Regions from separate parts of the Homo sapiens genome. Here region 1 is linked to region 2. The links come from fine-mapping of genetic effects on gene expression. A gene starts in region 2. The other region holds a variant in brackets. All regions are shown on one strand. Distances are between the middles of the regions. Region 1 overlaps LRMDA (leucine rich melanocyte differentiation associated). Region 2 holds the start of LRMDA (leucine rich melanocyte differentiation associated).

Evidence for each region.
Region 1: its variant is fine-mapped to the expression of LRMDA in whole blood (INTERVAL, PIP 0.96).

The regions. Positions count from the first base shown.
Region 1 is chr10:75,605,572-75,608,481 of GRCh38, forward strand. All of the region lies in intron 2 of LRMDA (leucine rich melanocyte differentiation associated), which reads left to right. Among named protein-coding and RNA genes, the nearest start is that of MIR606, 55 kb to the left of the region's middle. The variant A/G (reference allele first, on the strand shown) is at 1,395.
Region 2 is chr10:75,429,896-75,432,805 of GRCh38, forward strand. It overlaps LRMDA (leucine rich melanocyte differentiation associated), which reads left to right and starts at 1,729. Exons shown (of 7, transcript NM_001305581.2): 1 at 1,729-1,859. The coding sequence starts at 1,830. LOC107984293 (a long non-coding RNA gene) reads right to left here and starts at 1,715. Exons shown (of 2, transcript XR_001747703.2): 1 at 1,627-1,715; 2 at 1-415. RefSeq lists enhancers at 1,537-2,037, 2,038-2,538 and a silencer at 1,679-1,778.

The DNA of each region.
Region 1 (2,910 bases), 180 kb after region 2:
AGGACCCTTGTCCTAACGCATCCTTTCTGGGCACATTCTAACCCCTCCTGCCGCTGCTCTAATGTTAAGAGTGATTGGAATGAAAATAATTATCAGTATTTCAAACATGAAGAAACTGAGTTGCAGAAATTAACTTATCTAAGGTCATGGTGAAGCTGGGACAGAAATCTACATTTCTTTGGCTTGAATGGCCAAGTTCTTTGTGTGAGCAGTTGAAGGAGAAAGAGTGATGGCAGCGGCTGGGAACTGAGTACTCTCTTGCCGTCTCACCTCCTCCCAAATAAGCCTTTCTTTCTTTCTTTTTGAGACGGGGTCTTGCTCTGTCACTCAGGCTGGAGTGCAGTGGCGCAATCATGGCTCACTGCAACCTCTGCCTCCTGGACTCAGATGCTCTTCCTACCTTGGGCTCCCAAGTAGCTGTAACTACAGGTGTGCACCACCATGCTCAGCTAATTTTTGTATTTTTTGCAGAGATGGGGTTTCATCATATTGCCCAGGCTGGTCTTGAACTCCTGGGCTCAAGTGATCCACCCGCCTCAGCCTCCCAAAGTGCTAGGATTACAGGCATGAGCCACTGCGCCTGGCCAACCCTGTTTTCTAATGGTAAGATAAGTAAAGTTCACTGCTGGTAACTCCTTCTCTTAAACCCAACCAAACTGAGGCCAGTCTTAACATGTGCTCTTGCATGGGTATGTCTGTGTTAAGTGTGCGAGAAGGTAGAATATTAACTCTCTTACCATGTAGCTGAATTTCTTCTCTGTTGATTCAGAAATGGAAAGAAAATGTCAGAACTCCTGTAATGCCTTTAAAACAAAGGTGCAGTGAAGGTATTGAAACCAGAAATGAAAATAAGTGGGCTATTTTTAGAACCGAGGTTCTATTTTCTCACTGACTCCCAGTTTCTAGTTAAGGGCAGAGTCCATTCCGGGCTACATGGGCTCTATTGGTGCCCTTCCAGAAGCCTGCATTTCCACTGCACCTTTCTATTTCAAATGTTAAAGGACTGGGGACATTTATAGGAGGTGATGGTCTCTTGGCACAGAAGACTATGTCTCCCAGAGCTGCCGCAGTGTTTTTTCATCCCTTTCTTCTCACTTCTTTTCTGTTTACCTTTGGCTTGAGTAAGTCGATTGGCATGTCTCTTTATATTGGGAAAATTCACTGTTTGCCACAAGCAAGAGAGAAGGCAGAAAGCATGGATACAAACAGATCTGAGGGTATTTTTATGTCTGTATCTCTATTTCTGGGGGCAAGGGACAGTGTTGCCATCCATTAAACATTTATTGTATTAGCAACCTCTGGCCATCCCTGCTAATGGAGGGAAAGGATGTTATGATAATCCAAAATAGCACAAAGTTCCCAGTTTTAACAATTTGATTTGGCAGTGCATTACA[A/G]TAAAATCCCATGAATTCAACCTAATTAGGAAGGAGGCCAGTTTGGATTAGTGAAGCCCAAATGATATTTTATGGAAAATTGATTTTGTAGCTTCCAAATTTATGCAGCCACTTGAATTAGATATCAAAGTCTACAATAGAAATTCCCGGAACAGTTTTAATGACTAGTTAAAAATACTTGGCATTTTATTACAAAATGTTAGAGAAATGGTTACTTCCAAAGTGATCAAGACATTTCAGAACAGTCCTCTTGAGTTTTAACTATCTTCTGAAAGTCTTTCCTATCTTGTATTTATGAACAAGGCCTTTCTTGACATACGATAGGAAAGTAAATGCTTGTTAAAATTTCTTCAAATTTCTAGTCTGTTAGATTCGAATGAATAAAATTGACCTACATGATATTTTCCCCTCAGCAGATTTGTTGTCTTAATTCTGTTATGTTAAAGCTACTACAGATGGGAAGCCATTTCATGTAATACTGTATTTCTTTGGATGTTCTTATATTGAACTATATTTTTCTATTGATACAGGTGATAATTTTGTAGTGCTCTAATTTATAGTGGGCCCTTCCACTTTTAGTTTTTAACACATGATTTTCTCAGGTCCTAACCTTCTTTTCCTCCACATTTAATTATCTGTAAACAAATGCTAAAGCATTACAGATGAGCATCTTTTTCTTTTTAAGGGAGAATCACTGCCTTGTTTTGGTTTTGTAACAACAGCACTGTCTTCATTCCTCATGTGCAAGCAAGTGAGGTGACTTAGTGATTTCCAAATGACTGGCTGCACTGGAACCACCCAAGGAACTTTAAAAAATTGTGATTCCTAGGCCCCACTCCTGGAGATTTTGATTCAGTGGTTTTTTTTTTTTTTTTTTTTTTTTTGGAGCCCAAGATTTTCTATTTTTAACCAGCTCTCTGGTTGCTTCTGTTAGGTATCCAAACATGAAGTGGTTGCCTGGAGTGGTTAAAAATCCATTGTCCATATCCTAGCTATTGTGAATAATGCTGCCATGAGCATGGGAGTGCAGATATCTCTTTGAGATACTGATTTTATTTCCATCAGATATATACCCAGATAACCAAGAGAGGGAAACAACCTAAGTGTCCATTGATGGATGACTGGATCAAAAATTGTAGTGTGTGTATATATATATATATATATACACACACATACACAAAGCAATATTATTCCACCTTAAAAAAAGAAGGGTGTCCTGCCATTTGCAACATGGATGAACCTGGAGAACATGGTGACATAAACCAGACTTAGAAGACTACTGCATGATCTCACTTATATGTGGAATCTAAAATAGTCAACCACATAGAAGCAGAGACTAGAATGGTTGTTACCAGGGGATGGGGGGCCAGGGAAATGGGAAGGTTGTTGGTCAAAGGGTACAAAGTTTCAGTTATGTAGGATGTAATAAGTTCTGGAGACCTAAATGTACAGCATGTGACTATAGTTAATAATATACCACTGTATACTAGGAATTTGCTAAGAGAGTAGATCTTAA
Region 2 (2,910 bases):
AAGATTCTGGACTGTATTAATTATTACTTGATTAGGAGCCATTGAAAGATTTTAGGTAGGATCTAATTGGGCTTTTAAAATGGTTGCCCTGGGGCTATGTGGAGGAGGCAACAGTAGTGAGAGGGTGTGGAAAGGGGGAAAGATGCCAGCCCACTTTGGTGACATTGGTAGTGTCTGCAGAACAGCCTATGCTCAGATGACCCAGCTGTGTATGGAGGCAGGGGGATGGATGAGATGACCTTCAGTAACCCCCTTCTGGTGGGGGAAGGGAGAGCCGTTCTCCAATCTCATCTTTGAGTCAGCTTGGGCCTGTTTCCACAAGTCCTCTTCCATCTGTCAAAGCCCTTCTAGGAAAGCTGAGCTGAAAGGCAGCTGCGGAGGGCAGAGTGCTGGCTGGGTCCGGGCTCACTTCCTCCTTTTCAGGCAGGAAAAGCAGACAAAAGTGCACAATGGACCAGAGAGGGCGCGTCCAGCAGAGAAGGAGGGAGAAGGCGGGGGAGCTGGTCCTTGGGGCAACAGGCCTGGGAAGGTTCCCTTTGATCCCCTTATCTCTGGAGGGTAAGCTTTCTTTTTTGGCCTGCAGGACCTTTTGTTGCAGCATTTCCTGGAATCCCCCAAAGTAAACACAGTCAAGACTGCATTCTTACTGCTCTACTCTTCTGAGCCTGCTCCTCCCAGCTGAGAGAGGGGCAGGAAGGTCAACCCTCCGAGATCAACACTGCTCATCAAAATGCTGACAAGGGCCCACCTAACAATGTGTTAGGACCGGGGCTGTCTGAGAGACGATGCCAGTTAAGGCTGGGCTGGCTCTTAGCTGCAGCAAGAGTGGAAGATGACAACCAGTTGATATCTGGTAGCTCTGTGCATCCTGGACTTGGAGGCAAGAATAGGCAAGGAGAAAATCTGGATCCTTCCAGAGAATTTCAGAGAAAAACAGGCATGGGTTTAGGGAGTTACCTGCCCACTGGGCCTACTTTCATCCAGACAGGAGGCCCGTGGCCAGCTCTTCCAGGTGGGGATGGGGTGGGTGGGGAACAGCGAATAACCCCACTGATAACTTCAAGCCTCACAAATCTCTTGCCCTCTGAGGAGCAGGAGAAGAGAAGCCTGAAATTTGGGGTCACCAGCCAATTATCCTTCCCCAGGGTTTATTATTGTCAACTCTTAGAGGCCACAGGGAAAGGGTGGGGTGGTCTTCACCAAGCCAGCGTTTTATTTATAGGGAAATTCAACCCCCCCAATCCCCCTCCCCTCCTACAAATGGAAACTGGGCCGCACCAGGAGTCCTTCAACCTTCTAACTTTCCCTCTCCCCAGCTTTGATGAGGAGGGGCGTTCAGCCAAGAGGCCCCTCCTCGCTGCAGTTGAGGTCCATTATGTAACCCAGCTTGCGAAATGCAGGAAAGGCCCGGCTGGCTACAGCCCGGCTAACGGCTCAGAAAGGGCGCCCCTGATAGGAATACCCCCACCTCAGGCGTGGCCCAGACAAACGCGATAAAGCTGTGGGCATGGAGTTTTGGGCATTGGGACATCCGGGGGAGGGAGGGGCGCGGGCAGTCGGGGTCAGGCCGCCGTCGGGGCGCGGGGCGCTGCGGGCCACCTGTTGCAGCGGGCGGCCAGGGCTCACCTGCGCGGAGACCGGGCCGAGGGGCGGCGGCGGCGAGCGGCGGAGCTGAGGTCCCCGAGGCTAGCCCGCGCCTCCGGCTTCCGCCGGGTCAGCTGACTGCCCAGTGCGGAACTGTGCGCCCGCCGCGCTCCCCTGCCGCGCTCCCCGCTGCTGCCGCCGCGCCCCCGCGCTCCGTCCCGCGCGCCCGCAGCGTCCTGGCCGCCATGGCCGGGCTCGTGGTGCGTGGAACTCAAGTAAGTCCCGGCCAGCCCCGCCTCCGCCCGGGGCGCAGTCCGCGTGGGGAGGGACAGCGGGGCACAGAGGCTCCCCAGGGCCTAGACACCCCTGTCCCCGCCTCAGGGGGCTGCGTCTGCAGGGGGTGAGCTTCAGGTGCTCAGGCTCGCCCTAGTGGGGCTAGGACAGACCTCGTTTCGGGCCTGGCACACCCCCTTGATGTGCGGGAAGAACACCCGCAAGGTCTCCCGTTCTCCCCACTTCCTTCTGCCCTTAGCGCCTCACTGAGCAGGCCCAGCGGACACAGTGCTGACGGCCCCCGCTGCTTTTGGGGGCCCACAGAAAATGTTCCAATTTCATAATCTGAATTTTAAAAACTTTTGGTCAAAGAATCCATTTTGATAAATCACATTGATATAGTCATCTTTATACCAATGCAGTTGTAATATACAAATTTACTTATTTGTAAATGGAGGAAGGGGTTTATGAAGGCAAAAGTGTCTAGGGTACCCAAAGTCCCAGCACATCCCTGGAGATGAGGGTGCTGGTGGGCCCTGCGCTGAATGGGCTACGCCATAGCCAAAGGCTGATGGAAGGCCACCGACCTCCAGTTCTCTTTCCACACTCGATTTCTTGAACAGGAGTCTGTGATGAATGGCAACACGCCAGTTTCAATCCTGGGTGCCAGACACCCAGTCTCACATGCTTTGAGCTCTGTAGTGAAGCCTCAGGTGTTCATTGTTGGAGGGATGAACCCAGCCACTCTGGGACCAGGTGTCTTTCTTACCTGCTGGAAAAGCCAGTTCTCTGTCTTTAACCTCTTCTCTGCTCTGATGAAGCCAGAGCCCTCTTACTTCCCACCTTTCCCTGCACACCCTGGAGAAATAGTTCTGAGTTTTTGAAGCTCTCCTCTTGGATTGCCTAAGGCAGGTAGTGTCAGGCACAATTGGATTTTGAGATTACTTTGGGCTGAAGGGAATGATTCCTCCTTAGAGGAGATTCTAGGGGTTTTTACAGCTCCTACAGATGCAGTGAGGGCCAACTGTGCAGCCCATTAAACTAGCCGCTGCC